Linked DNA regions of Homo sapiens. The protein of the gene in region 1 purifies or fractionates together with the protein of each later gene. This does not show direct contact. Each region holds a gene or a part of one and is shown in the gene's direction. Other genes may lie near its edges. The genes, in order: DLG1, LIN7C, NUP50, KCNA5, ZMYM1, APBA1 and LIN7A.

The links.
Region 2: the proteins of DLG1 (region 1) and LIN7C purify together in Homo sapiens (affinity purification with mass spectrometry; 6 studies listed by BioGRID and IntAct, with this or other methods). This does not show direct contact.
Region 3: the proteins of DLG1 (region 1) and NUP50 fractionate together in Homo sapiens (co-fractionation; one large-scale study listed by BioGRID). This does not show direct contact.
Region 4: the proteins of DLG1 (region 1) and KCNA5 purify together in Homo sapiens (affinity purification with western blotting; 2 studies listed by BioGRID). This does not show direct contact.
Region 5: the proteins of DLG1 (region 1) and ZMYM1 purify together in Homo sapiens (co-immunoprecipitation; one large-scale study listed by IntAct). This does not show direct contact.
Region 6: the proteins of DLG1 (region 1) and APBA1 purify together in Homo sapiens (affinity purification with western blotting; 2 studies listed by BioGRID and IntAct, with this or other methods). This does not show direct contact.
Region 7: the proteins of DLG1 (region 1) and LIN7A purify together in Homo sapiens (affinity purification with western blotting; 2 studies listed by BioGRID and IntAct, with this or other methods). This does not show direct contact.

Annotation. Positions count from the first base shown.
Region 1 is NC_000003.12:197,043,366-197,047,871, reverse strand, and holds part of DLG1 (disks large homolog 1), read left to right. Parts: intron 1-3,142; coding exon 3,143-3,249; 3' UTR 3,250-4,506. UniProt on the Homo sapiens protein: Essential multidomain scaffolding protein required for normal development. Recruits channels, receptors and signaling molecules to discrete plasma membrane domains in polarized cells.
Region 2 is NC_000011.10:27,493,609-27,497,466, reverse strand, and holds the end of LIN7C (protein lin-7 homolog C), read left to right. Parts: 3' UTR 1-3,049; downstream 3,050-3,858. UniProt on the Homo sapiens protein: Plays a role in establishing and maintaining the asymmetric distribution of channels and receptors at the plasma membrane of polarized cells.
Region 3 is NC_000022.11:45,166,627-45,171,132, forward strand, and holds part of NUP50 (nuclear pore complex protein Nup50), read left to right. Parts: intron 1-1,539; exon of another isoform or gene 1,540-1,541; 5' UTR 1,542-1,551; coding exon 1,552-1,620; intron 1,621-4,361; exon of another isoform or gene 4,362-4,506. UniProt on the Homo sapiens protein: Component of the nuclear pore complex that has a direct role in nuclear protein import. Actively displaces NLSs from importin-alpha, and facilitates disassembly of the importin-alpha:beta-cargo complex and importin recycling.
Region 4 is NC_000012.12:5,042,072-5,047,358, forward strand, and holds KCNA5 (potassium voltage-gated channel subfamily A member 5), read left to right. Parts: upstream 1-1,807; 5' UTR 1,808-2,076; coding exon 2,077-3,918; 3' UTR 3,919-4,717; downstream 4,718-5,287. UniProt on the Homo sapiens protein: Voltage-gated potassium channel that mediates transmembrane potassium transport in excitable membranes. Forms tetrameric potassium-selective channels through which potassium ions pass in accordance with their electrochemical gradient.
Region 5 is NC_000001.11:35,109,687-35,113,679, forward strand, and holds part of ZMYM1 (zinc finger MYM-type protein 1), read left to right. Parts: intron 1-607; coding exon 608-761; intron 762-2,085; coding exon 2,086-2,226; intron 2,227-2,400; coding exon 2,401-2,444; intron 2,445-3,290; coding exon 3,291-3,993.
Region 6 is NC_000009.12:69,518,186-69,522,691, reverse strand, and holds part of APBA1 (amyloid-beta A4 precursor protein-binding family A member 1), read left to right. Parts: intron 1-4,506. UniProt on the Homo sapiens protein: Putative function in synaptic vesicle exocytosis by binding to Munc18-1, an essential component of the synaptic vesicle exocytotic machinery. May modulate processing of the amyloid-beta precursor protein (APP) and hence formation of APP-beta.
Region 7 is NC_000012.12:80,926,929-80,931,434, reverse strand, and holds part of LIN7A (protein lin-7 homolog A), read left to right. Parts: intron 1-4,506. UniProt on the Homo sapiens protein: Plays a role in establishing and maintaining the asymmetric distribution of channels and receptors at the plasma membrane of polarized cells.

The DNA of each region.
Region 1 (4,506 bases):
AAAAATCATCCAAGACCAGTGTGAAGGCGCTTTTTTCCCTGTGTTTTCTTCTAGGAGTTTTATGGTTCTGGTTTTACATTTAAGTCTTTAGTCTATTTCAAGTTAATTTTGTATAAGATAAGGGTTTAGTTTCGTTCTCTTGCATGTGGATATCCAGATTTTCCAGCACCATTTATTTAAGACACTAGCCTTTCCCTATTGTGTAGTCTTGGCCCCTTTTTAATGATTAGTTGCCCTTTGATCCGTTTTGAAATACTATTTGTTTAAAAAAAAAAAAAGTAGGTAGCAACTCCCCAATATTCTTATTTTACTCGCCTTGTCCTTTAACTTCCTCCTCAAGTCTTTGGACATTTTTGTTGTTGTTACTTGTTTGTTTGAAATAATATCAGCCTAAATTTGACATTCACACTGAGTATCAGTAAGGGTCATGGTTTTTAAACCTTGTGCTTTCTTATTTTTTTCAAACTAATTTCAGACTTAAATAGAAGTTACAAGAATAGTACAGGGAGTTTCATGTACCCTTCACCCAAATTCCTCAAGTGTTAACATTTTACCACATTTATAGGTTTTTTTCTGATACACTTGAGAGTAAGTTTCAGGTAGATGTCCCTTTACTTCTAAATATTTCAGTGTGTATTTTCTAAAAAACAGGGATATTCCCTTATAGAATCATAGTTTTATTATCAAAATCAGGAAATTTAATAATTATATGTCTCATCTAACTATAGATCTTATTAGTATTTCACTATTCTTCTAATCTCTTTAGAGCAAAATGGAAAAAAATGGTTTTTCTGTTCTGGTGCAGGATCCAGCGGAGGCTCACGTGCTGTATTGGATTATCACATCCTTAATGTTCTTTAATCTGAAATCGTTCCCAAGTCTTGTTATTCATGACCCTGACTGACATTTTTTAAGAGTAAAAACACTAGGGGGGATTTTTTGTTGTTTTTTGTTTCGTTTTGTTTTTTGTTTCGTTTTGTTTTTTGTCTTTTGTTTTTTTTTGAGCCAGGGTCTCACTCTGTCACCCAGGCTGGAGTGCAATGGTGCGATCTCAGTTCACTGGAACCTCCACCTCCCAGGCTCAAGTGATCCTCCCACCTCAGCCTCCCAAGGAGCTGGGACTACAGGCTACAGCCAACATGCCCAGCTAATTTTTGTATTTTTTGTAGAGACAGGATTTCGCCATGTTGCCCAGGCTGGTCTCAAACTCATCCAATCCGCCCACCTTCACCTTGACCTCCCAAAGTGGTGGGACTACAGGCGTGAGCCACTGCACCCGGCCAAAGACCCATTCTTTTATAAAATGTCCCTCCCTCAATTTGGATTTATCTGATGTTTTCTCATAATTCGATTTAGGTTCTGCATTTGGGGCAGGAATAGCAATGAAGTAATGATGTGTCCTCTGTGTATCATGCAAGGAGGTTTACAAAGTCTACTTGTGCCGTTACTTATGATGCTAATTTTAATCACATGGTTAAGGTGTCTGCAGCCTTATGCTTTCCCAGTTTCCCTGGTTTACTAACCATTCCATTAATGAATTTACAAAGTAAGCAAAATGTATATTTCCCAAGTCAGTTCCTGACTGTTTTCTCCTAAAATAAATCCTTGCGTGCTGTTGTCAACCTAAACTATGAAATGCTCTAAAATAAATCCTTGCGTGCTGTTGTCAACCTAAACTATGAAATGCTCTGGGATTCTGTCCTGTGCTGTTGGGGTGCATCAAGATGCCAAACCCACGAACCAAGTATTTTGTCAAATGAACTGAGTCTTCAGGGACATTGAGGCATGTCTGCATTTAGCTCAAAAGGTAGAAGTCTCACAAAACTGATACTAGCGAATATCATGTTACTGAAAATTCTTGGTTATTCAGGCGTTCCTAGCTATGTATAAGTGCTTCCTACCTACATACAACGTCTTTCTTCTATGCACATCATCTCAGGTACCAAATAGACAGTATTATTTAAAATCCCCCTTTGACATTTTATGCTCAGTTTTTCAGACCATGGAAATCTACACCTATGATGCTCTTCCAAGATCACTGGGCATTTTTTTGTAGTTTAGTAAGTGACTTATTTAATTTGCAATTCTCAATTATTTCATTTATATGTAAACTTTTTTACGAGACACAAGGTTCCACTCTGTCACCCAGGCAAATGGTACAATCCAATGGTACGATCATAGCTCACTGCAGTTGTGAACTCCTGGGCTCAAGAGATCATCCTCCTGTCTCAGCCTCCCAAGTAGCCAGGATTACAGACACACACCACCATGCCCAGCTATTTTTTTTTTTTTTTAAATACACAGGGTCTCACTATGTTCCCCAGGCTGATCTCAAACTCCTAGCCTCAAGCAACCCTCCCACTTCAGCCTCCCAAAGTGCTAGGATTGCAGGCATGAGCCACCATGCCCAACCATAAACATTTTCTTTCTTTCTTAAAAAGTTAGTTACTCATGCTTAGTGCTGTCTAGCGATACTTTGTTTTTGTTTGTTTGTTTGCTTTATTAACTAATCCCTCACAGACCTCAGGGGCTTCAGCTATTCCCAAAGAATTAGTTGTTAGTAATTGTTACTCTTTTTTTCACACATTATTTCAGACAGCAAATAAACATTGATTGTTAAGTCTCTAACCACTAACAAGCTAGCTTAGGTATCTCTCAATTCACCTACACTACAGTACCTGACATGCTAGCTTAACTGAAAAAAGTAGTATCAATCTGTAATCAGCTCTTTTCCCCCAAGATCCTACCCCAAAAAAAAAAAAAATTATCCTTACATCATCCTGTCTATGGGATTGTACCCAGTTTCCTTTTTTCTACATATGTTTATGGAGAAATCAGGAAAGTTAAGAAAATAATTTGTTTTAAAATAATAAAGCTAATATATGCTCAGATGGTAAAAGAACAAAAGAAAAGATCTCCAAGTCTTACTTTTTGATCCATTTTTAAGATAAAAATTTTATACTATATAAATAGGAAAATTAATGAAGTGAGCCTTTTTTCCTAAGTGAACAGTGTGTAAATGGTGATTCTTCCTGGATGAGTAACTTTTTCAAAGATACTAGCTTCTACTATTTCATCAATAATTGTAATGGCAAAAATAGACAATTAATGGAGATTTCTGATTTTGTTTCTATCATTACAGCTATTGTACAGGGGGATACGCTGGAAGACATTTACAACCAAGTGAAACAGATCATAGAAGAACAATCTGGTTCTTACATCTGGGTTCCGGCAAAAGAAAAGCTATGAAAACTCATGTTTCTCTGTTTCTCTTTTCCACAATTCCATTTTCTTTGGCATCTCTTTGCCCTTTCCTCTGGAGTCTTTCTTGAGTACTGATTTCATGTTGAATTGTATCCCACACATCATGGTCTGCAGCTTCTTTTTCACATGTAGTGTCTCCTTCAAGTTACATCGTGTGTATTATTTAATGTCACTATTGGTTAGTGGCCATTTTTCAGAACTGAAGATGGAATGGCCTGACCAGCTATTAAGAACGTGGGGAGACGCAGAAATTGTGGTAAAATTCCTTAATGTTTAAGGGAAAGTAACTTTAAGAGATTTTTGGAAAAGCTTTATATACATTCTTTTCAAATTTCAGTACAAATGAAAAAGTGGTTTTAATCAGTGATTTAGTAGACTTTGAGCAACTGTGCACGCTTCAGTTTAATAGCATGGTTTGGCCAGTGTATTACTCTCAAGTCCTTTTCTCAATCAACTTCTATCATCAAAGCAATTGTTTCATTATAGATAAATAAGGACATTTTTTAATTTAAAAATTCATGTCTGAGTTGACTTTCATAAGGGATTTCATTTTTTCCTCAACATTCTTAAAGCCTTTTAGTATTTGACGGTTCTTTTTTCCCAGGACATTTGCTAGGAATAACAACGTTTCAATGTTTTTAATCTACTTGAGCAACACTATCGTGTCTTACAAAAGTTGTTCATATGTAAATGATCATCACATTTCGTGAATTGAGGCCATGTTCAGGTGCTAAGGAAGTTCGCCTTTTACACAGAAGATTGAGAAAATTTCCTAGATATAAATACAGATAAATCAGACGTTACAGTGGTGACGTAGTAACCATCATGGCAATGGAAAGGAGTCCAATTCATAGCCTAAAACTTCAAATGTATTCTTAGGAGTCAGATTTTACTGAATATTTTACCCACAATAGCTGCCTATTTTGTTATAATAAAATATATATAAATATATATATAAAACTTTCTTTAAACTGTAACTATGGGAATTATTTTCTTTACATAGTTGCGCACACACACAAACATATATATATATTTAAAATATATTTTGTTTCTTTTGCCACCTACTCCTAACTTTTTGTTTGGTTTTTAAATTAAATATTAATTGAATAGACTTATCTTCCTTAATCATGTGAACTGAAAATGGGGGCATGGTGGTCATGAGGAGGAAACATTTAGGGAAATTAGATTATAAGTAAAAGTGTGGGCATATTCTCCTCTTTTCTACAAAGGTTTTCAAATGGT
Region 2 (3,858 bases), on another chromosome or scaffold:
CACTGGATGTCACTATTTTACTAAAAGGCAGCTATTAGTGTGGGACTGTGACTGAGGTCTTAAAGACTGAAAGAGTTGGGGTTCATTTTCTGTTACAACTTACAGGAACATTTGTACTTTAAGAAAAATTTAAGTGACAAATGTTAGAAGATGATGGATTGAAAAATATAAGTAATTTGGCATATTGACCCTATATAAAAAAGTGGGCATTTTGTAACATTCCTTCAGGAAGAATAGAATTGTATGCTTTTTTCTGCATGTTTGTGATCACTGTGAGTCTCAGATGATTATTCCAGTTTTCAATGATTTTTCAAAATAAAAGTCAATCAGCATTGTTATTTATCATTAAGGTATTGAACACTGGATTGCATGGTTGAATGTGTCTTTAATCCACTACAAAATGTGCTTGTTATTGATAGGATCATGTTGTTAAATTGTAAATTTTCAAAATTAATTGATGTTTTAAAAATGTTGAGACCAAAGTAGTATAGAAGTATGGACTTAATTTAATTGTAAAATTATTAGAGGTATTTGTTGTAGAGCTTTATATATTAAAGAGAGGTATTGGTGCATATAAAAACAGTAATATTATTGTTATGCTTGTATTCTTGCATTTCAGGGTAAGTAAACCCTGAAGAAATCTTATTTTAGTATAGCTACAGCTGCAGTAGCTTTTAAGTATGTATCAACATTTCATTATAAATTATAGCTTCCTGGTTCTGTGTCTCAGCTGTTTCAGAACTTTCAGCCAAGTTAAATCTTTTTTGGTGTTGAAACTTTTAGTAAGTTGAGTAAGCTATTTTTTTCCCTACGGTAATCCACAATCTGTTCTTTGTGTGGGTTGACACCTATTTATAATTCTTAAAATAAGGGTAGCTCAAAGGAGCCAAGTACAGTAGTTTAGCTTGCTACTGTTGAGCATGAATAGCAGTAGGTTGTTTTCATTAATGCAGTTTTCATAATGTATCCCAGAATTTTAAATCTTGACCATAGAAAAATACAGTCATTCATTGGCAAAGATGTACAGTGGTGGTTTAGTGCAGTGAGGAAATGATGGGAATTTTTATCTTAGAAATGGATGATTCGTGAATAAAACTAGGTACATAGTAAGTGTATGATAGATGTTTGATTTGTAAATTACAAATATAAATTATCACCCCCATTTCCATTTATTTTCTTGATATATCAAAATGTGTTGACTTAGTGATTCTCAATCTTAGCTACATATTAGCCTGGCAGAGCTTTAAAAAATTGATACCTGGGTCCTATTCCATAACAACTAAATCAAAATCACCCTTTTTTTTTTTTTTGTAAAGCTTTCCAGGTGGTTCTAAAGGACACCTAGGGTCAATAACCCATTATAAAATGATCTGATTACACTGGACACTCTTAGGAAGTATCAAAATAGAACAGTTCAATTTGCAGCTACTTAATGATTAATTACATTTCTTAGGTTTTTTTTTTGTTTTTTTTTTGGTTTGTTTGTTTTTTGTTTTAAAAGAGACAGGATCTTGCTTTGTCTCCCAGGCTGGAACACAGTGGTGTGATCATAGCTCACTGCAGCCTGAAACTCCTTGGCTTCCACCTCAGCCTCCCAAAGCATTAGGATTATAGGCGTGAGCCACTGCACCTGGCCAAGTAATTTCTTTTAGGAATAAAAGGTACTTGGCATTCCTTATTTGGGAAGTAATTACAGTCTTATCTTTTTTTTTCTTTTTTCTTTTTTTTAATAAAATCTACCAGTAATTTAAATGTGAGCTTTTTATGTCTGTCATCATTCTGCCCCCTTTGCCTTTAAAACTTACAAAAATACGTGTTTGTTATTTGAGAAAGCATGTTTAAAAATTGCAGATGAGAAATATTGTCGTTAATAATTATGTACTGTCTTAATGTGGGCACTTCATTTGTTAGTATAATACTAGATAATAGCAGCCTAGTTCTTTAGGATTTGACGATTCAAATTTTTTTTTTGTTTTTTGTTTTTGTTTTTTTTTGAGACAGAGTCTTGCTCTGTTGCCCAGGCTGGCGTGCAGTGGTGTGATCTCGGCTCACTTCAGCCTCCGCCACCTCAAGGCAGTTCAAGCAATTCTCCTGCCTCAGCCTCCCGAGTAGCTAGGACTACAGGCGTGTGCCACCTCTCCCGGCTAATTTTTTTGTATTTTTAGTAGAGACGGGGTTTCACCGTGTTAGCCAGGATGATCTCGATCTCCTGACCTCGTGATTCGCCCGCCTCGGCCTCCCAAAGTGCTGGAATTACTGGCGTGAGCCACCATGCCCAGCCTCAAATATGTTTTTAAAAAATATCATTGTCCTCCTCCTCTTAAGATTTTTTTAAGTTATTTTGCTCAAGTACTTAAGTAGTCTGGCTCAAGTACTTTGTTTACAATTAAAATGGATATTATAGCATTTAATAGAAGAAATGGTTATGGCTTATCCAAAAAGAATGTCAGCATGACCTGGTGTAGACTTAAAAAACTACATGTTTGTGAATATTTTATAATGTGGAATGATCATTGAAATATCAAGGATTCTAGTAATTGTATTTCCTGAATAAATGTATGTTTATGAATTTTCTAACTTACATTTTGTTGTGTCCTCTGCCAACAATCTGGTTTTATAATTGTTGTCTAAAGTTTGCTAGTAGTGTTTCTTCAAAGGTTATTCCAGGTATGGTTAAGTAGTGAGAAAAATCACTTATTAATTTTCAAGAACTTTGAGACTAATTTGTATTGACTCGGTTTTTTAAAATAACTGGCAAATGCTATGCTTCTACTTTTAAAATTTGTGGTAATACCCAGAATGGATGTAAAATAACATTTTTCAATAGATTACTTCATTTATCAATTTAATTCTGATTTTAAGGCTTATTTAAAATAAATTTGTATGAGTTATGTCCTCGTTCTTTGGATTTGAAAAAAGTTGATATAACTACACAATAGATAACGTTTATGAAAGGTATGTATAAAAAAACATAATTCCTGGTGGCTGCTGAAATGAAACTTTGAATTTCTATATTTTGCTTTGTCTTTCATAAAATTTAAAGAAAACATTTTCTTGTGTTATTTCAAGAGCGGCAGTATGACGTGATTGAGAGCACAGATTCTGAAGCCAAACAACTCTGGTTTCAATCCCAGTTCCACCATTACCGTGTGTCACCTTAGACAGGTTGCTTGATTTCTTTGTGCCTTAGTTCCCTCACCTGTCATTTGTTAATAAGAATGCCTGTAAGTGTCATGCCATTTTCTGTAAGGCCCTTAAAAAGGTGCCTGGCATAGTAAATACTGTTTGTGTTTGCTTTTGTTCATGTAAAATAGCTTCAGAACCTTATGAGCTAAAGGAAATAATTCTGGTCAAAAAATTAAAATTAGCAAGTTTTTATTTTTGGTATTTAGAAAACAACCTTTATGCTTAAAAACTTTAGAAGAATAAGATTCATAAGAAATTATCAAATTTATATTTTGATCAAAGAAACTCGGAATTTTTAAATTGGAGCTTTGAGGATTGAAGCCATATTCTAATGAAAATCATTGGAAAATAAGTCCAAGTAAGGATTTGTTAAATTAACCTTTAAGGTGATGACCTAGGCATAGAGACAGGAGACTACTGGACTAGGTGTTAGACAGTCCAAGGCATCACCACCATTAACTTTAAAAAAGTGTGGAAATGTGCCACACAGCCGAGGAACAACAAAAAGCATTTAGTGTTAGGACTCAGTTTTTTTCAAAACTTTAGTAGACCAGAGTATCCATTCACTAAATTTTTCTATTCGGGTTTTGTTATATTCACTATTTTGATTATTCTGATTTTACTATAATGAATTGCTGACCCATATTTTGTACGTTTACTTATTAGTGGCAG
Region 3 (4,506 bases), on another chromosome or scaffold:
TCTTACTTCTCCAACCCTCTGGTGGAGACATTAGTTAATGAGTAGGAAAATTGCCAAAAAGAATCCGTACAGAGACCTGGTTTCTGCACAGTAAAGAATTATGTCTATTCCTGTATTTGTTTTTGTTTGTATGACAAAGATTAATGGCAAAACTTAACCAAGTGTTTTTGGGTGGACATTAAAAAGAGAGGGTTCCCAGCGAATGGAAAGTGTATTTATTTCTCATCCTTTATATTTTAGAATCTTGGACTTTAATATCATTTGTAATCAGAAAAATAGCATAAACTTACAAAATTTAAAAATCACTAAAATGTATTAAAAGCTGACAGCCCGTATGTAATTACTCCACTGGCCATCAAATTGTAGAGGCCTTTGGAATACCAGCATTTGCATTTTACTTTTAGATACTAAAGAGTGATATGTCACCTCATATCTTAGCGACCACTTTGTGGGGTTGTAATACACTCTGTATTACACAATACACCAGAATAAGGAAGCTTACTCTGGTGTATTGTGGTGTTGAGAGCAAACAAGAGTGGGGAGAGTATCACGAAGGAGTTCAGGCAGGTTTAACAAGACCTGGCAGGTCCCCAAAACTAATCAGTAAGTTTTTGGGCGAGGTGGGTAGCAGGGGAAATGGAAAGGTTTTTTGTCCAGCTGGAGAGTTAGTGAAGAAGGCAGCACAACACTCATAGCGGAGCTCTGGGTTGTGGGTTTTCTTTGTTTTGTTGTTATGATATTAAGATCAGAAAACAAATCGTAAATTTTAAGGGATGGACAGGAGCACCCTCTTTGGTTAGGTGCCGGAATCCACTGCAGAGTTCACGCCGTTCCCCAACTCCTGCCCCTTCCACTAATGCCATCGTATTGAAGAGTTAAGCCAATGATTTGTTTTTGAAAGGTTATAAGTTCCCAGAATACTAACACACCCATGTTAATCATTTTGGACTTCTAATTGTCTTGGCAATATACAATTTGAAGCAACAAAATGTTCAGTCTTGGGAACCATGTATCTCTGTCGGCTGTAGCTTAAAGAACAGTATTCGTGTTGTGGAGGCGTTTCCAGCCCGTTATTCGTATTCTTACTGAAAGATACACTTCTTTAATGGGTCATCTTTAAGAGAATTTTAAATATTAAAATTATTTTCTTTATGACAAGACTTTCAGTATGTATATGCGTAGAATAAGTTAAGGACTTTTTGATTATATATACAGTACTTCAGATTCCAGATTTTTAAAAAATCAATTGATATTTCATTTTAATTTTTCCAAATGGAGTCGGTTTAGTGTTGTTCAGGACTGCTGGTGTTCCCTAGGAATCTTCTTCTGCCTCCTGGAAAAAGCCTTTATTGATTTGTAACACTGGGAGCCTAACAGCACCAATGTAAAGTTCTCATTAAAGCAGTTTCCAGATGCTTTTTTTCCCTGATAAAAAAACCAGAGATGTTTTTATCTCACTTCATGCTAGAGTGAATTTTTAAAATTCTTTATAAGAATTTATTCTTCTAGAAAAATAAACTCTTCTGTTTTCTATAACTTAGGTTCGAAAACATGGCCAAAAGAAATGCCGAGAAGGAACTGACAGATAGGAATTGGGATCAAGAAGATGAAGCTGAAGAGGTAAAAAGCAGCTTCCCTAAGAATGATTTCCTGTTTCTTTTGCCTTTTACATTCATTTTGGGGTTCCTCATGAAGACTTGTGACAGAACTAAAAGACCTTTCTAAGAACATCATGAATGGGAGATGACAAGAAATTATATGACCTGTACTTAGTGTAGATATTTATTAATTACATTTCTGTGACCTCTAGTTAGTGTAGAAATGTATTAATTACATTTAGATGTGCTTTTCCACTAGTGCCTGCTCCTTAAATATTCTCCTTAGTAGAAGCACTTTTCCTCCTGAGTTTCGTATACTTGAAGCATTCTGAACCCATGTTTGCAGTAAGCCATTTTAGTCATGACTGAAGGCTGAGTTAAGTGATGTAGTCATGAACTTAGCACACTGCCCAGATGTGAAAGTGGTACACCATCACCATCTTGGTCTGTGGTACTCCGTTTCCCTAATGCTTCTTGGAGGCCTGCTTTATTTCCTTTTCTTAATGGTAGACCTGAGACCCCTAACAATTGCATTTATAGGAATAGAATTGAGATTGGCCTAGTTCCTTTTCCAGCAGAATAAAAATGGTCTCCCCTGAGGAAATCTGATCATTTTTCCCTTATAAACAGTAGGACTGGGCAGCATAGAGAGATCCCGGTCTCTATAAAAAAAATTTTTTTTTTTTTTTTTTTTTGAGACAGAGTCTCACCCTGTTGCCCAGGCTGGAGTGCGGTGGCACAACCTCGGCTCACTGCAACTTTTATCTCCCGGGTTCAAGTGATTCTCCTGCCTCAGCCTCCCGAGTAGCTGGGATTACAGGTGTACACCACCACACCCAGCTAATTTTTGTATTTTTAGTAGAGACAGGGATTCACCATGTTGGTCAGACTGGTCTCAAACTCCTGACCTCAAGTGATCCACCCGCCTTGGCCTCCCAAAGTGCTGGGATTACAGGCGAGAACCACCGCACCCAACCCCCCAAAAAATTGTTTTAATTAGCTGAACATGGTGGCATGAGCCTATAGTCACAGCAATTTGGGAAGCTGAGGCGGGAGGTTTGCTTGAGCCCAGGAGTTCAAGGCTGCTGTGACCTGTGATTGCACCACTGCACTCCAGCCTGGGCAACAGGGTGAGACCCTGTCTAAAAAACAAAGAATAAAACACAGCTGTACTTATAGGATGTGGGCGAAGGATTACCCAGGTGCCGAGGCAAGAGACTGAAGGCACAAACTGTTTCAGTATAATACATAAAATAGTTAGAATAAGAATAGTCATAATACAAATTAGATACAGAGATGATCACGGGCATTATCAATCATTAGTATAAACATTACTAGTCATTAGCTTTTAATATTACTCTTTGTTGTACTACTAATATAACCAAGGAATAACCGGCAGATACAGGGTCAGGTGCTGAAGGGACATTGTGAGAAGTGACCTAGAAGGCAAGAGGTGAGCCAGCCCTCTGTCACGCCCGCATAAGGGCCGCTTGAGGGCTCCTTGGTCAAGTGGTAACGCCAGTGCCTGGGAAGGCACCTGTTACTTAGTAGACCGTGAAAGGGAGTCTCCTTTACTTGGAGGAGTCAGGGAACACTCTGCTCCACCACCTTCTTGTGGGAGATTGGATATTGTCCAGGCTTGCCAGTAGTCATCCAGAGGCTTGAACCCCTCCCTGTGGTGCTGTGCTTCAGTGGTCACACTCCTTGTCCACATTCATGCTCCTCCCGTAGTCCTGGTTCCTCTTTGAAGTTCTTAGTAGATAGCAGTAGAAGAAATAGTGAAAGTTTTAAAGTCTTTGATCTTTCTGATAAGTGCATAGAAGAAAATGCTGACGTACGCCGCCTTCCTTCTCTGCTTCAGCTACCTAAAAGGGAAGGGCCCCTGTCCCATGATCACGTGACTTGCTTGACCTTGTCAATCCCCTGGACGACTCATCCTCCTCACCCTGCTCCCTTGTCTTGTATGCAATAAATATCAGCACGCCCAGCCATTCAGGGCCACTGCCGGTCTCCGTGTCTTGGTGGTAGTAGTCCCCCAGGCCCAGCTGTTTTCTCTTTATCTCTTTGTCTTGTGTCTTTATTTCTTACAATCTCTGTTTCCCCCTTCGAGGAGAACACCCGCAAAGCCCAGTAGGGCTGGACTCTACAGTCGTACCTTATCAGCAGTGTGTTACCCCCAGGCCAGATGACTAAGGAAATCTGTAACCACGACTTTCAGGTTAACAGCATAGTGCTAAGTGAAAAAAGAAAAATGTTAAAACTGCAACTGTTTCCAAGCTTATTCTTAGACGGCCATCTTCCTTCTTTTGGAATCTTTCTGGTACTAGTACTTTTTTTCTCTACAAGTGTATCTCCTCACATATGTTTAGGGAAACCAGAATCCCAAGGATGTGAGTGTTTTGACAGGGTCAAAACTGATTTGGTGCTTTTTAACTAAAATCTTTGGTTATGGGGGTTTTTGGTTTTTTGTTGTTGTTGGTTTAAGATCTTAAGCACAGTTACATTCTGGGCTATAGTAACATCTAGATTACCATGTAACTATTTGCTTAGACATTAAAATATTCAGGAATGAAAGAACTCCCATTCGAACATATGCCAATGAAATGTGTGGAAAGATTACATTTAGTTAAGTACATTTAACTTGGGGCAAGTGCAGCCAGATGGTCCCCTCTATGAGTGTAGGAGCCCGTTAAGTTTAATATGATCTGAAACAACTATAGGTGAGAATTTTTGCATGAGAAATATTTTATTCCGACCCTACAGGGTAAAAGAAGGGCTATAAACTAAAGCCGAAGATATTCAGCAGCTTTCTGACGTGGACATCAGAAGTGTGGACATGAGTGTGCTTTGAGCGCACTGTGGAAGAGCAGTGGTTGTCCAGCAAGGTCCTAGGTGCCTCCGTGGCCTT
Region 4 (5,287 bases), on another chromosome or scaffold:
GCACAGATATGGGGAAAGGGGATGCAAGGCCCTGTGGTTAACCAGTGATGCCTTCACATACTGATTTTCATGTTCATACCCTTCCTCACTCATGCACGTCTGCAAAGACAGCCAACAATATGCACAGTCACACAGAATGAAAATACTTACGCACACCAAATTCACATCCACCTTCACATATAAACTCTTAAAAAGCCATATGCACACATACTTCTCAAACCTTGACCCAAGTTTGTGTGTCTATGCGCTGCTATTGCAACACACACTTGTGCACCCAGGACCAAGTTTCCAAATCACACCCTTTGGATAGAGACATTCATTGACAAGAGGTCCTAACTTCACGCATATAAATCTGAAGCAATATGCAGAAACAAAAATAGACAATGAAAACAGACATTCAAAAACACAGCCACTTTATGATAATTTAAAACCAAGAAACTTCTGGAGACTGTGTCTGGCAGTTCCAGACACACACCTTGAAACAGATTCCTCTTGGTTACCAATGCCTGCTAAAACCCTGCAGGGGTTGAGACAGGGCAGGGGAAGATTTCCTAGTGTCCCAACCTAGAAAGATTAATATGTTATATCAGCCATCATCCTGCCTTCTGCAGCAGGGAACTAAAGTTCTCAGGCCAGATGTTGGAGTGAGGGAGTGCTTGTATCAGGAAAAGGGATTATGCATTTCTATAGAGGAGTGAAATATAGGGGACAAGGGCCAAACTCTGATTGTTTGAGTTTGAGTTCCAGCATCATCAGTTTCCACCTGCATAAGCCTGGGTGAGTCTGTCAATCTCTCTGTGCCTCAGTTTCTTCATTTATAAAATGGTGATGATAATAGTACTTACAAAATAGGTTGCTGTAGGAATACACAGAGACAATATTTGTAAAGTGCTGAGAGTGGGCTGGTGCATAATGAGAGCCAAGTAAGTATTGGTTGTTATTATTCCATTCTTGGGAATGCTCCAGCCTTGGAGATTGGACAACCTCCCTGGCTCCCTCTCATAAGCCACCTCCACCCTCAGTCTCCTTCATGGACCTAGATGCAGTTGCTCGGTCCAAGATTCACCAGGCAGGATTAGCCCTCACCAGGATTGTAAAAATCGCTTCTCCCCTTCCCTGCTGTGGTTTTTGCAAATGGGATTCGTTGGAGCGGGTGGAGGGGTTCTGCTGGGTTGAGACCAGACAGCTCATCTCCTGACTAGGCTGCTTGCCTGGGCTGCCACCAGGTCTGTACTGGAAACAGGCTAGGGCATGGGAATCCTGCAGGGTTCCAACCCCCTTGTACATTTTTGTGGATCTGTAGGAAGACGGGAAGAGAGATGCTTCTCCATTGATACATGTATTTCAAGGTCCGTAACTACGTGGCCCCCCTCCCTTCTGTAATCCTTCCCAAAGAAATACCGTTATTTCTCCAAAATAAAAAGGACTGGTGTCTCCCGTCTCTGTCTCTCATACTCCGACTCAGCTCAAAGCCTCGTCCCTTTAGCCCAAGGCACTTCGTTCCTCCTGGAGTCCACTCGGCTTCCAGCGGGTTCCCAGGTGAACTGAAATCCAGAGCTATTCTCATCTGGTTGCCCTGGGAATTTCAGCGCTGTCGGTACAACCTGTTCCTCCATCCTCCCCACTCCTTCCCTCCCTCCGCTGGGCTGCACCCTTCTCAGCCCCTCCTTTCCCTTGCTAGGGGCCCCAGCTGCGCCCTCCGGGGAGACACCCGCTGCCACGAGACCCGGGAGGGGAAGCGGGAGGAGGGGGAGAGGAGGGGAAGGCGGGGGAGGCGCCGAGGGTGGAGGCCAAGCGCGGCGCAGCCAGAGAGGGGCGGCTGAAGGTTGCATCTGCTGGAAGGAGGCTTTTCGGCTGCTTGGTAACGGGCTGCCAGAAGAGAGAGAGGCAGAGAGCAGGGCAGCGGCTTCTTGACGTCAGGGCCAAGCGAGGGGATCGCGCCAGCAACCCCAGCTCTCCCCAGAGAGGGGCCGGCCGACCGCTGGAGCGGAGCCTGACGCCAGGCGCCCGCGGAGCGTGAGTAGGGGGCGCGGGAGCCGGTCAGCTGGGGCGCAGCATGCCCTCTGCTCCCGCGCCATGGAGATCGCCCTGGTGCCCCTGGAGAACGGCGGTGCCATGACCGTCAGAGGAGGCGATGAGGCCCGGGCAGGCTGCGGCCAGGCCACAGGGGGAGAGCTCCAGTGTCCCCCGACGGCTGGGCTCAGCGATGGGCCCAAGGAGCCGGCGCCAAAGGGGCGCGGCGCGCAGAGAGACGCGGACTCGGGAGTGCGGCCCTTGCCTCCGCTGCCGGACCCGGGAGTGCGGCCCTTGCCTCCGCTGCCAGAGGAGCTGCCACGGCCTCGACGGCCGCCTCCCGAGGACGAGGAGGAAGAAGGCGATCCCGGCCTGGGCACGGTGGAGGACCAGGCTCTGGGCACGGCGTCCCTGCACCACCAGCGCGTCCACATCAACATCTCCGGGCTGCGCTTTGAGACGCAGCTGGGCACCCTGGCGCAGTTCCCCAACACACTCCTGGGGGACCCCGCCAAGCGCCTGCGCTACTTCGACCCCCTGAGGAACGAGTACTTCTTCGACCGCAACCGGCCCAGCTTCGACGGTATCCTCTACTACTACCAGTCCGGGGGCCGCCTGCGGAGGCCGGTCAACGTCTCCCTGGACGTGTTCGCGGACGAGATACGCTTCTACCAGCTGGGGGACGAGGCCATGGAGCGCTTCCGCGAGGATGAGGGCTTCATTAAAGAAGAGGAGAAGCCCCTGCCCCGCAACGAGTTCCAGCGCCAGGTGTGGCTTATCTTCGAGTATCCGGAGAGCTCTGGGTCCGCGCGGGCCATCGCCATCGTCTCGGTCTTGGTTATCCTCATCTCCATCATCACCTTCTGCTTGGAGACCCTGCCTGAGTTCAGGGATGAACGTGAGCTGCTCCGCCACCCTCCGGCGCCCCACCAGCCTCCCGCGCCCGCCCCTGGGGCCAACGGCAGCGGGGTCATGGCCCCGCCCTCTGGCCCTACGGTGGCACCGCTCCTGCCCAGGACCCTGGCCGACCCCTTCTTCATCGTGGAGACCACGTGCGTCATCTGGTTCACCTTCGAGCTGCTCGTGCGCTTCTTCGCCTGCCCCAGCAAGGCAGGGTTCTCCCGGAACATCATGAACATCATCGATGTGGTGGCCATCTTCCCCTACTTCATCACCCTGGGCACCGAACTGGCAGAGCAGCAGCCAGGGGGTGGAGGAGGCGGCCAGAATGGGCAGCAGGCCATGTCCCTGGCCATCCTCCGAGTCATCCGCCTGGTCCGGGTGTTCCGCATCTTCAAGCTCTCCCGCCACTCCAAGGGGCTGCAGATCCTGGGCAAGACCTTGCAGGCCTCCATGAGGGAGCTGGGGCTGCTCATCTTCTTCCTCTTCATCGGGGTCATCCTCTTCTCCAGTGCCGTCTACTTCGCAGAGGCTGACAACCAGGGAACCCATTTCTCTAGCATCCCTGACGCCTTCTGGTGGGCAGTGGTCACCATGACCACTGTGGGCTACGGGGACATGAGGCCCATCACTGTTGGGGGCAAGATCGTGGGCTCGCTGTGTGCCATCGCCGGGGTCCTCACCATTGCCCTGCCTGTGCCCGTCATCGTCTCCAACTTCAACTACTTCTACCACCGGGAAACGGATCACGAGGAGCCGGCAGTCCTTAAGGAAGAGCAGGGCACTCAGAGCCAGGGGCCGGGGCTGGACAGAGGAGTCCAGCGGAAGGTCAGCGGGAGCAGGGGATCCTTCTGCAAGGCTGGGGGGACCCTGGAGAATGCAGACAGTGCCCGAAGGGGCAGCTGCCCCCTAGAGAAGTGTAACGTCAAGGCCAAGAGCAACGTGGACTTGCGGAGGTCCCTTTATGCCCTCTGCCTGGACACCAGCCGGGAAACAGATTTGTGAAAGGAGATTCAGGCAGACTGGTGGCAGTGGAGTAGGGAATGGGAGGCTTGCTGAACATGGATATCTACATTATACCGCAGAGTATTTGAAGTCACACTGTAACCTCAGTCTACCCCTCTCCTTTCACTCCTTTCCTCCCTCCCTCGATCCCCCCATTTTCTCTATTCTTTCCATGACACCCAAGGGTCGCCTATTTTTAAAAAGTACCACATTCCATGACGCAGGAGCTGTGGAAATGGTGAGCGCTGTGAGATGGATGTATTTGTAGCCAGTCTCCTATACCCAGCAGAGGGATAACCCAAACAAAAATGACTCTAAATAGCCCAGATCCCAAGAGATTATGTAACTCCTCCATCCATGTGTTCCAAATTTGCTTTACATATGATTGTATTTGTGTATAGGGGAAAATATTATTTTTATGCCTGGTAAGTGGCTTTTTGTACTGTAGTTCAGATAGAGATATTTTGGGTATATTTTCAAGATACATGTTGTATTTATGGAAGAAAGAGTTGTCCTGATGTTTTTCTGTGTTACTTATATTAGAGTCAGAGATCTTGGTATGGGCTGTTCTGTTTCCTGTGTCTCCAAGCCTCTGTCTTTTCTGGGATGTGGTATTGGTGCTTTGTGTCTAGGGCAGAGTATGTTCTTGAAGAAAGGCAAATCTGACTTTTTCTGTGCGCCTTAAACAATTCTTGTAACTTTCTTCAAAAAGCATTTTAATGATATTGGAGGAATACTTCTGATAATTTATTGTCTTTATTTTTATCCCAGGAAATAAAAGGTTACCTTGTTGAGGCAAGTGTTAGTTTTTCTGCAGCTGATACATTTTCTGAAATTTTTAAAAATAGTCTGTCACTGGCTGTTTCTGGTTTTGACATCAGAGCAAACGCATTGACTGGGGTTAGAGGAAATCTGAAAAGCTCATGATTTGCTTGGCGACGTCTTTTCAGTGCACCCCTTGGTGCCTCATAGACAATGGTGGGTGAATTTTGTCCAGGCTGTTTATGGCACGGACGCCCCTGTGAGATGCTCTCTGAAGCAGTAGTATCAGCCCTTATGGTCAGCCTGGAGTAGGGAGGGCACTTAAAGGAAAAAGGGGATCAGACCCCTGACAGTCTTATTGGGTCTCCCGGCACTGGCTTTCATTCCTTTGTTTGCAGGTTTTCAGCCCTCCTCAGGGTGGCTCTCAGCAGCTCTGAGAAAAGCAAGCCTGATTCTCACAGACATGAAGCAGTCCTGGCAGCCCCAGTGTGCGAGTCACAGAGGGACCTGCACCGGTTGTTCACTGCCCTCTTGGCATGGCAGAGGAGCACGTAATGTCTTTATGGCAACAGCAACAGTGAGAGGCCAAATGGAAGGATTTGCTTGT
Region 5 (3,993 bases), on another chromosome or scaffold:
TGTTTATCCAGTAGGCTTTGACTGCCTGAAATGAACTTCTGTGACCACTTTCTTCATTGCTTTTTTTTTTTTCCCTTGAAAAGGAGTTTCACTCTTGTTGCCCAGGCTGGAGTGCAGTGTCACAATCTCAGCTCACTGCAACCTCTGCCACCCAGGTTCAAGTGATTCTCCTGCCTCAGCCTCCTGAGTAACTGTGATTACAGGCGCTCGCCACTACACCTAGCTAATTTTTTGTATTTTTAGTAGAGACGGGATTTCACTATGTTGGCCAGGCTGGTCTCGAACTCCTGACCTCAGGTGATCTGCCTGCTTTGGCCTCCCAAAGTGCTGGGATTACATGCATGAGCCACTGCACCTGGCCTTACTGCTTTCATAGGTATTATTATTATTGCTGTTAAATATATCTGATAAATAATAAAAATCATTTTCAGATTTGCCAATATTCTTTTAGTTATTGCAATCTGTAGTGTCTTTTTAAGAAAATGTAAAAACTGTCTTAATTGTTATTCTTTTTAATATTCCAACTAAAAGCAGTGGTAATAGGTTCTTCTTCATTAACAACATATCATATACCAGGAATATGAATATTATTTTAATCTCTAAACAGAAACCTGCCAAACCACTTATATCTGTTCCTTGCAAACCATTGAAGCCCTCAGATGAAATGATTGAGACTACGAGTGATTTGGGGAAGACAGAGCTTTTCTGCTCTATTAATTGTTTCTCTGCATACAGTAAAGCTAAGATGGAATCTTCTTCAGGTAATGTTTGTTTAGCAATTGTAGGGGTTTAGTAATTATTAATAAATAATATTATTTGACTTTAATTTATAACCTTGATTCATTTTCAAATTAAACCGACTTTTAAAAGTCAAAACAATCTAAACTTGTTGCAAAGAACTGTTTTTCAGTATTTTTGTATAAAAGGAAGGCTACTTTACCACCAGAGATTTAATATTTGTAGGCCAAGCACGGTGGCTCATGCCTGTATTCCCAGCACTTTGGGAGGCCAAAGTGGGCAGATCGCCTGAGGTCAGGAGTTTGAGACCAGCCTGGGCAACATGTTGAAACCCCGTCTCTACTAAAAATACAAAAAAAATTAGCTGGGCGTGTTGGTGGGTCCCTGTAGTCCCAGCTACTTAGGAGGCTGAGACAGGAGAATCATTTGAACCTGGGTGGTGGAGGTTGCAGTGAGCCGAGATCGCACCATTGCACTCCAGTCTGGGTGACAGAGTGAGACTCCATCTCAAAAATAATAATAATAAAAATTAAAAGATACATGTCTTTTTTTAGATTATTTAGTAAATGAATATATGTATGTTTACATCAATATATATTGAGCACCTACTGCAAAACATGGTACATAGGAGGCACTTGGTCAATATAGAGTTTAATACATTTACAAGACTGCTTTTATTAGAATATAGAATGTTTTACTTAGCCCTGTTTTGTAAAAACAAGTTTTCATTACATTTTTCACATGAAATAGAAGTGATTGTAAATGCTTTAAGACTCAATAATAAAAAAGCACAAATAATCTGAGCCAACTAAGTATTCCATCAAAAAGCCTCATGTAGGACCAGTGGTGCTATTTACATAGACCATAGAGTGACTAATGCCTCTGGGATTTGTAAGTCATACAAACTGGCTTGTTACAGAAATTTCTGCAATAGTGGCTTGGGCACCAACCTAGCGCTCCATTGATGTTAAGGTTTATGAATCCTGGAAGAGTTTGAAATAGATGCCCATTAGGAGATTCAATCAGAATCTCTTTTCTTCATGAGTAATTTCACAGAAAAATTTGCTCATAATTTTAAACAAATTCTTTAAAAGGACTGGGAAATTGTGTACAAAGGTAAAAGACATAAAATGTTGGAGAAGTGTAAATTTTCAGTGTAATGTTGTAATTATAAATACGATACTAAAGAACCTGGCTATTCCTAAGCCCTAATAAAAATTACTTCAGTACCTACCAATTCCTTAAGCTATTAGATGCTTGCATTATTTCTTTAAACAGTATTACTAAACAGTACTTTCTGATGATTGATTTTGCCTTGTTTATAAGAAATCTTTTTATTGTTGTCAGTAAGTGTTGTTTCTGTGGTGCATGATACTTCAACAGAGCTTCTTTCTCCAAAGAAAGATACGACTCCAGTTATAAGCAATATAGTGTCATTGGCAGACACCGATGTTGCCTTGCCCATCATGAACACTGATGTCTTACAAGGTAAAAGTTGATGTTAAGATATTTGACATAAATATTGTTTTGTCATACTTGATAAATCTGTCTATATGCTAAATTTTCTTTTTGTTTCTTATATGAAATAAGCAAATATAGTTTATGATGCTATTTTATAGGTTATAGTATATAAGATCTTGAATTTATGCTCTATTTTAACAGATACAGTTTCTTCAGTAACAGCAACAGCAGATGTCATTGTGGATGTAAGTTTTAACTTTTTTTACCACTGTCTTTTTTTAATAAGCAGATTTTTGTTGTTGTTGTTGTTGAGACAGAGTCTCGCTCTGCCACCCAAGCTGGAGTGCAGTGGCGTGATCTCAGCTCACTGCAACCTTTGCCTCCTGGGTTCAAGCGATTCTCCTGCCTCAGCCTCCTGAGTAGCTGGGATTACCAGCGCCTGCTACCATGCCCAGTTAATTTTTGTATTTTTAGTAGAGAAGGGGTTTCACCATGTTGGCCAACCTGGTCTCGAACTGCTGGCCTCAGGTGATCCGCCCACCTTGGCCTCCCAAAGTGCTGGGATTACAGGCATGAGCCACCACACCTGGCCCAGATTTTTTATATATATATATAATATATACTATAATATATAAAAATATAAATATATAATATAAATATATTATAATATATTGTATATAATATAAATATATTATAATGTATATTTATTATATATTATATTTATATATTTAATATATATTTTATGTATTATGTATTCATATATGGGGTGTGTGTGTATGTTTGTAGATTGTTTAAACAGAAGTATTTTTTTCCTCTGGGTTCTTCTTTTAAAAAAATACTACACAATTTGAGTCATCTGAGCAATAAAAATTATTTTTATGACAATTACATACCAAAAGGTCCTTCAAACATTTAATGCTGAATCTAGATTGCAAATAAATAAGTTATACGTAATTGTTAACGTTTCCCCCTAGTGGAGCTCATACTGTAACTCAGCCATTTATTTTACTATGTTATTAGAGTAGATATATTTGATATTTTAATTAATTTTTGAAAACTGTTAAATGTTCTTTTCTCATTTTCTCCCAAAGCTTTCTAAGAGTTCACCTAGTGAACCCAGTAATGCTGTTGCTAGTAGTAGTACGGAACAGCCAAGCGTTTCACCATCTTCATCAGTATTCAGTCAGCATGCAATTGGTTCCAGTACAGAAGTACAAAAAGACAATATGAAATCTATGAAAATAAGTGATGAACTATGTCACCCAAAATGTACATCCAAAGTACAAAAAGTTAAAGGTAAATCACGAAGTATTAAAAAATCTTGTTGTGCAGATTTTGAGTGTTTGGAAAACAGTAAAAAAGATGTGGCATTCTGTTATTCATGCCAGTTGTTCTGCCAAAAATATTTTAGCTGTGGAAGAGAGTCATTTGCAACCCACGGAACTTCTAATTGGAAAAAAACCCTGGAAAAATTCAGAAAGCATGAAAAAAGTGAAATGCATTTGAAGTCATTGGAATTTTGGAGAGAATACCAATTTTGTGATGGAGCTGTCAGTGACGATTTATCTATTCATTCGAAACAGATTGAGGGAAATAAAAAGTACCTAAAGCTTATAATTGAAAATATTTTATTTCTTGGAAAGCAGTGTTTACCCTTAAGAGGAAACGACCAGTCAGTTTCATCTGTGAATAAAGGCAATTTTTTAGAATTGTTAGAAATGAGAGCAAAAGATAAAGGAGAAGAAACATTTCGACTTATGAATTCACAAGTTGACTTCTATAACAGTACACAAA
Region 6 (4,506 bases), on another chromosome or scaffold:
GGTGTTACAATTGTTGTCATTGTTTTAACTCTGGGCTGCTTTTGTATCTTGAGTATATTTCTATTTTGCACTTATCACCAGGTATCATAACTGTCAGAGCTGTCTGCCCTAAACCATAGTTTAGAAACTTTTACATCCCCTTTGCCTTGCACAGTGACTGGTACATGTCTGATAAATGCCCATTGGATTAACACACTCAGATGCAGGAGAATGTTGAATCATTTGCATTCTTTAGGCACTTAAAGCATTAGAAGAAGTTGAAGGAGTTTGCATGAGTGAATAAGGGCAGCAAAGATTTAAGATAGAAAGAAGAAATGAGTTCTTCTCCAAAGGCTGATCATGCCAATGTCTAGAAGTCTATAAGGCCCCAACTATTGGGTGGGAGGGGTGGGGGATAAAGATTTTTCCTTTTTCAGTTACTAAAAATTCCTTTACCACCTTCTGTATACCCTCTGTGCTTGGCATCAGAAAATCAAAGATACATGACAAAACATCTTTTTCTTAAGGACTTGATACTTACAAAGAATTACCACTCAGAATGATAGAAGCCATGATAAATTTTATATATATACACACACACATATATATATATATAATTTATATATGTGTGTGTGTGTGTGTGTATAAAATGGTGTGAGTATGTGTGAGACGGAGAGAGAAAGGGAAAGGGAGAGAGAGAAAAAGCACAGCGGGCACAAAGGGAGGCTTAGTTGGGCCTTATCAATCCCCTGCTTAAACTCCCCAGTAGCATGCCACCACACTTGAAATAAAATCCACATCCTTTACCATGATGTACCAGACCCTGCCCAACTCAGCCCCTTTCCATCTCTTTGTCCTCATCGCCCATCACACTGTCCCTTACTCACGCCACACCTGCCTACAAACATTATTTCTGTCCTTGAACACAGCTGATCCTTTCTCACCTCAAAGCCCTTGCCCTCAGATCTTCACAAGGCCACCTCTTTCTTGATTATTCAGACCTCAACTCAAATATCTCATTCTTTGAATAATATCTACATAATGTCCTCTCCTCAGTCATTTTCTATGGCGTTACTCTGTTTTGTATTACCTTCATAAAATGTTTCCCTATGAAGTTATCTTGTTTACTTACTTACATAATTATTGTCTGCCCTTTTTTCCCTCTGACCCCCGACCCAGTGCACTAGAATGGGGACTTCCTGAAAGCAGGGAAGCCTCCTCTGGCTTGCTCACTGTTCTGCCCCAGTGCCTCGAATGTGCCTGGAGGCTGGCACCTAATTAACATTCATCAAGTATGAATGTGGCCTGGGGAAGACAAGAAAGATTCACCAAAGAAAAGTTATAGGTTAAAATATGCCATGAATAGGGAGGGCAGTTAGGGCCAACACCAGGACTTTGGCTGTTAGAATGCAGGGTGCGGGATGAAGTGTGGAGATGGACTAAAGGGGTGAAGCATCCCAAGGTCTTTGTTGGCCAGGAATAGGACTCAAGAGCCCAGACCCCAGAGCTAGAGTGCAAAGATCAAATGTCAGGGGGCCTCCCTTACCAGATGTGTGACCTGGGACAATCACCTAACCTTTCTAATCACTTGTTTCTTCATTTTCAGAAGAGCTGATAATGGCAGTACTCTTCATTAGCTAGTGTGAAGGTTAAATGTGTCACGTGGAAAATGCCTAGTAGTACCTGGGACATAGTTAGCTAAGCATTTATACTGTGCCCTAGAAGGGAATCACTGAAGAGTTTGAGGAGTAGGGTTATGGGATTCAGATTTGTATTTTTTAAAGATCATCAGGCTGGCAGTGGGGAGGATGGACTGGAGGGGGCTGATAAATCAGAGTCAAGGAAACAACCAGGTAGTCAAGACAGACCAAGACAAAGCAGTGGCAGCAAGACTGATCCAAGAGTTATTAAGACAGTGGACTCTGGCATCAGTTTGAGGAGGGAGATAAGGGAAGGAGATGATTCAGTGGGTGGCTGGTGGTACCATTTGCCCATATGGGAAATACAGGAGGGAACCCAGTTTGAGAGCGAGGGTGGGTAGGGAAGGTGAGGAGGTGTGATTTCTTCAGCTGTGGCTGGCTGAGTTGAAGTGTTATGGGAACTCCAGGTGGAGCTTCCCAGAGAGAAAACCCCCACATCTTTCTGATCACAATATAACCCTAATATGATTAGCATTGTACTTATCAGTACCTAATAAATATTAGCGCTTAATATTTGGTGTTTAAAATTTTTGCTTTTGAAGAAAATACTGTGAGAAACATTTTTGTCCACATTCAAGTTTTTTCTTTTAGACTTCTATATGTAGAATTACTGGGGCAAAAGGTATGTTACCTTTTGAAGAATTTAATTCATCTTGCCAAATTGCTTTTCAAAAATTTTGTACCAATAATATACTCCCACAATAACCTAGGATTTTTAAAAAGCAGCTTAAATGTTTTTTATAAATACCACTCCCAAAGTTGCCAGCGTATGGAGAACAGTCCTCTTGTGTGTAGGGATAAACCTAAGCATCAACTTCGGCTCCTTCCTTAAAAGTTGACAATTGCCTTTTTGTCCTAGGGAAACCCCCAAAGTCAATGTCTGTTATTCATTAACATGTTGCAATACCACAACCCAAATCATATTCTTGGAAACATGATGGTGTGTAAAATACAAACACTGTATGTGTAAATACTCCCGTGAGGTCTGTGGATGGGGGTATAAGGAGAAGGTACTTAGTGAACAAAAAGATCTATTGTACCAAAACTACATTAACACTATCTTCCACCACCCCCTGCCCCACCAGAGAACTTCCTTTACCACAGTTTAGTGTATATACACGCAAGGAAGTTCCATTTCCTTTGAATCAATACATGGGTTATAAGAGGGCACCATTCACCGATTTTAACCCAGAATAAGCTAAAATTTCTTTTTAATACATATGTCAATAGATTTTCATCAAGCTAAAGAACAGCCATTTTCCCTGAAGGCAGCATTTTGGTCAGTTCCACATATGGTTATCATGAATTGTTGGTCATTCAGGTACTTTCTGTGGTTTTTGTTACTGTTTTTCTTACGCTGACCACACACAACTGTGACACCTCTGGGTAACAGAACCCAAGAAAGTCTGTGATATGTTTGCTATCCCTTTCTGTGAATGCTCACTTTGTGTTTATTAGAATTAGATTTGTACCTTAAGAACCCAATGTAGATTTAATGAAGGTTTATCTGTTGTCTTTTTGAGAAAGTCCTTATGAAGGCAACTTGGGTATGATGTTCTTGTCCATGTGTTGTATTGAATTGAATATTTGTTTTGTGTTTCTTATAATCCACTGGAGGCCCGTAGCAGCAACACTTGCTGCTTCTGTTTAGAGCAGGGGTCCCCAACCACTGGGCCATGGACCAGTATTGGAGCATGAACTCTATTGTGAACTGCACATGCAAAGGATCTAGGTCATGCACTCTTATGAAAATCTAACTAATGCCTCATGATCTGAGGTGGAACAGCTTCTAATCATTCCCCACCCCACCCTGCTGCTGGTTTACAGCCTTAACCATCCATCAAGGTTTGAAGGGAGATTCATACTTGCTTTTGGAGACTTTCTTATACTTAGTCCACAGTCGCTGTTCTCAGGAGTTAATGGGAGGAGCCCAAAATTTTTCAAAAGAGGTTGGGTCTAATTTGTATCAAGTGGGACTTATGTCAAGTAGCGAAGCAATAAAGATTGTTCATCTCTTGTAAACCGTGATTCTTTTCTTCTAGCGAGAATCAGTCAGGGGTGGATCCATCAAAGAATGGGGAAGACATGATACTTCTGCTTGAATGTGGACTTGGTAGCTCCAAAATGATCTCCTTTGTTATTGGGATGGTCATCAATGCTTGAAGGAAATTGCTGTGGTTGTGATGGGGAGTTGAGTAGAATATAATGCATCTCACTACTAGAGAGTCCATCAGATGTCCCTGGTCCTCCTGGGGTTGTCTGTTATCATATTTAAGAGTTCACTTCCCATCCATTGTGTCCATTTGTAAGAAAGGCTCTCCAAAAGAACATAATAGCAAGTTTACACATACTGTTGAGCCTATTTACCATAGGGATCTCAAAATCATAGGGGTCCTGCCTGTTTTGTTGTGGTTGTTTACATTCTTTGTGTCTATTTCTATATACTGCACAGATTATACCATAAAGCTATTTTGTGATAAGAAGAATTGAGAGAGACTGAAACCAAATCTTTCTCTCGAGCTACAAGTTTCTCTGAAAATAGAAAGAGACCTACCCATATTTTTAAAAAATTACACCTGTTATCCAGTTCTAGCTATAATGGCAACTCATAAAATCTTAGAATTTTAGATTCAGGTTACATGGGGAAAGTGAATATAGTCCTCCCTTGGTATCCATGGGGGTTGGTTTCAGGACCCCAGTGGATATAAAAATCCATTATAAAATGGTATAGTATTTGCATATGATCTATGCACATCCTCCCATATACTGTAAATCATCTCTAGATTTCTCATAATACCTAATACAATATAAATGCTATATAAATTGT
Region 7 (4,506 bases), on another chromosome or scaffold:
TCCTGACCTCAGGTGATGCGCGTGCCTCAGCCTCCCAAAGTGCTGGAATGACAAGCAAGAGCCACTGCACCCAGCCTGTTTTTTATTTGATAATTAAAAGTTACAAAGAGAATGACTCAAATCTCTAAAGCATTTTGGTTACAAAAATAAGAAATTTGGTGAATCCTTTCTAGTTTGGTGTGTCATTCATCCGAGCCCTGAAATGTATTTGGTGTGCTCCTGTCAGTTATGAAATTAATGCTCTTGCTTATGAGTGTTGTTTTTCAGGGATCACAACTAAGGCCTAGCTCTTAAGTAGAGGAAAGAAAACATCTAGGGAGTACTATCAAACAGGAAGGTGTCCTGGGTATTAGAGATGGTGTTATATGCACAATGCCAGTATCTCTTTGAGTTCTTTTCTTAAAGTCATGACATTTGCCTGTTAGGATATACTTTCCATCAGGTCAGAGACCATGTCGGGTTTGTTTATGTAGAACCCAGCACATTGTGTGGCACATAGTTGGCACGCTCTTTGTATTTGTTGATTGAATGAGTGAATGAATGAATAAAATTGGCTTAGCAAGACTTAGCTGTCATGGATTATTCTTAATGCAACAAAACAAAACAAAACAAAAGCCTTCTAACCTAAAATAATGAAAAGTAGTGGCTACCTTAGGATGTCACTTTGCCTCTCTGTGTATGTAGCTGGCTCCTACAAGTGTAGTGCTCTCAAGGGCCAAGAAAGAATGTGAGGTGTTGGTTTTGATAGTCATAGCCCTGTTTCAGTTGTCTGCATTTACCCTGCTGTTTTAACTTATGAATTGAATCGCACGAGCTAATGTCAGAATACAACTGAAAAGGTTTTTTAAATGGGTGGAGTTGCTATAGAATTGCCCCCCTCCACACACATATATATAAGCTACGCTTTTCAATTTTTTTAACCATAAATACATGAATGACAGAACTATGTCCTAATAAACAAATTAAAATGGATTTAACTTGAACTCACTCTGCACTACCAAATGTGAACTTAACCTTAAAAATTGTGTTAATTTCATCCATGCCTTAGTTCTGGTTTATTCAATTGAGATCTTTAAAAAAAAAGATTGAATTTTGCTAAGTAATATACTAACTGAATTCAAACACTTGTCCAATAAAAATAAATATGCCTGAAAACCACTTGAAAAAAATCATGAGGGATTGAAACTTATTTTGTAGTTATATTCAAGTATCTACCTATCTTGGACATAAAGCTAGGGTGTCTAATTTCCATTGATGGTAATTTTCCTTAGAAACAATATAGCTAGTCCAAGTCTAACTGTTTGTGCAACTTTTGTTTACTTGCCCAGTGTGGAGATAGTTATATTTCAATATAACATCTTTTGTTTTTAAATTAATCAAAGGATTACCTTTAACTAAAAAAAGATAGAATAATGGGAGTCACAACATGGCTATAAGATTTAAACCCACAAGATAGATGGAGAAACATAGCATGAAATCACAGCTGGGTCTATTTAACAATAATGAAGAAAAAATTGGGGAATATAGTTGAGGGACTGCTGAAAGTGATTTTTGAGGAAAATTGGAGAAGAGCAGTAATTGCTGATGGACAAATAACCTGGCTTCCAAAAAGATGACAAAGGTGTTTTGGGAAACTATAGGGCAATCTATTTGTTGCCTCTTGGCCCATATATATATTTTAAAATATATATAAAATGTGTGTGTGTGTGTACATATATATATTTAAAAGAATGAGATATTGGCACTTAGAAAAGAAAGTGGTGATCCCAGAGGCTACGTGGAAAATCACTAAGAGTAGACATTGCAGAAGTTCAGACATATGTCATAGTCTCATTATATATTCATGACCCCACAACTCTCACAGACACCTTGTGGAAAATGTGGAAATACATAAAGTGGATGATTGCATTGTTGGATTTCTAGTAGAAACACTTCTCCAAGGAAGTTTGGTTCATGGTCTTGTTTGGCACTGTTACCAATATTTTGAATGAGCACCATAGAATATATTTTAACAAACTTTACAGGTGACTAAGCTAGGAGGAATAACAAATAATTTGGCCAACCCTACCAATATTCTAAAATTATTCCTAGCTTGAATGGCAGGTTACAATAAAAGAGATAAAATTTAGAGGAAATGAATGTAGCCTTCATTTATTAGATTGAATCAAATTAGAATGCTGATTGCATATTGATTGTACTGGTGTCTGACTGGAATAATCTGGTTTAAGAGTATTTTATTTGGAAAAGATTGAGGACTTTATTTATTAGGTTGGTGCAAAAGTAATTGAGGTTTTTGCCATTGAAGGTAATATCAAAGACTGCAATTACTTTTGCACCAACATAATAATAAATTCATCATGAGCAGTGTGATTAAATTATCAAAATATTATAAAAACTCTCTGGAAAATTAAATATAAAACTAGTTAATATTAATAATGTAGAAAAACACTAATACAGCATACCCTAGCAGGGATTATTTAAAAGATATTAGAATAACTGTATTGGTATATTAATCATGTTAATAATAAGTTTTAAAACATGATGAAAATTAAACTCAATACAATACAAAAATTAACTCAAGATGGATTAAAGACTTAAATGTAAGACCTAAAATCATAAAAAACCCTAGAAGAAAACCTAGGCAATACCATTCAGGGCATAGGCATGGGCAAAGACTTCATGACTAAAACACCAAAAGCAAATGGCAACAAAAGCCAAAATAGACAAATGGGATCTACTTAAACTAAAGAGCTCCTGAACAGCAAAAGAAACTATCATCAGAGAGAACAGGCAACCTACAGAATGGGAGAAAATTTTTGCAATCTACCCATCTGACAAAAGACTAATATCCAGAATCTACAAAGAAACAAATTTACAAGAAAAAAACAAACAACCCCATCAAAAAATGGGAAAAAGATATGAACAGACATTCCTCAAAAGAAGACATTTATGCAGCCAACAGACACGTGAATGTCATCACTGGTCATCAGAGAAATGCAAATCAAATCCACAATGGGATGCCATCTCACACCAGTTAGAATGGCGATCATTAAAAAGTCAGGAAACAGATGCTGGAGAGGATGTGGAGAAATAGGAACACTTTTACACTCTTGGTGGGAGTGTAAATTGGTTCAACCATTGTGGAAGACAGTGTGGCGATCCCTCAAGGATCTAGAACTAGAAATGCTATTTGACCCAGCGATCCCATTACTGAGTATATATCCAAAGGATTATAAATCATGCTACTATAAAGACACATGCACATGTATGTTTATTGCAGCACTATTCACAACAGCAAAGACTTGGAACCAACCCAAATGTCCATCAATGATAGACTGGATTAAGAAAATGTGGCACATATACACCATGGAATACTATGCAGCCATAAAAAAGGATGAGTTGATGTCCTTTGCAGGGACATGGATGAAGCTGGAAACCATCATTCTCAGCAAACTATCACAAGGACAGAAAACCAAACACCGCATATTCTCACTCATAGATGGGAATTGAACAATGAGAACACATGGACACAGGGTGGGGAACATCACACAGCCAGGCCTGTGGGGAGGTGGGGGGATGGGGAGGGATAGCTTGAGGAGAAATACCTAATGTAAATGACGAGTTGACGGGTGCAGCAAACCAACGTGGCACATGTATACCTATGTAACAAACCTGCACATTGTGCACATGTACCCTAGAACTTAAAGTATAATTTTAAAAAAATGATGAAAAACAAATTCACAGTTAGCAGTTTTTCTCAACTGAGACACCATTGGTAGTTAGGGCGCTAAGTTTATTTGTCATATAAGAGGTTTGGTATCCTTAGTTCCCAGGAGCTAAATGCCAGCTTGAATCACACTGTGTTAACTGAAAATACCCAATGAATTTCCACATTCCCTTTTTAAAGGCAGTTCTATCCCATCTAGTTGAGAACCATCAGTGTCCAAAAAAGTAGGATAGTTCAACCTTAGAAAATAATTTACTGTGGCCGGGCGTGGTGGCTCACGCCTGCAATCCCAGCACTTTGGGAGGCCAAGGCGGGCAGATCACGAGGTCAGGAGCTCCAGACCACGGTGAAACCCCGTCTCTGCTAAAAATACAAAAAATTAGCTGGGCGCGGTGGCGGGCGCCTGTAGTCCCAGCTACTCGGGAGGCTGAGGCAGGTGAATCGCCTGAAGCCGGAAGGCGGAGCTTGCAATGAGCCGAGATCACGCCACTGCACTCCAGCCTGGGCGACGGAGCGAGACTCCGTCTCAAAAAAAAAAAAAAAAAAAAAAAAGAAAAAGAAAAGAAAATAGTTTACTGTAACTCTTTACACTAACAGATTAAAGGAGAAAAACCATATCATTTTAGTATATATTGATAAAGGCATGTGATGAAAGATAACATTAATATCTGATTAAAAAACAACTTTTAGTAATCTCTAAGTAGAGGACTTCCTTAACTTGACAAACACTAGGCATGAAATGCCGCCAATGTCAATTTTTTTTTTTTTTTTTTTTTTTT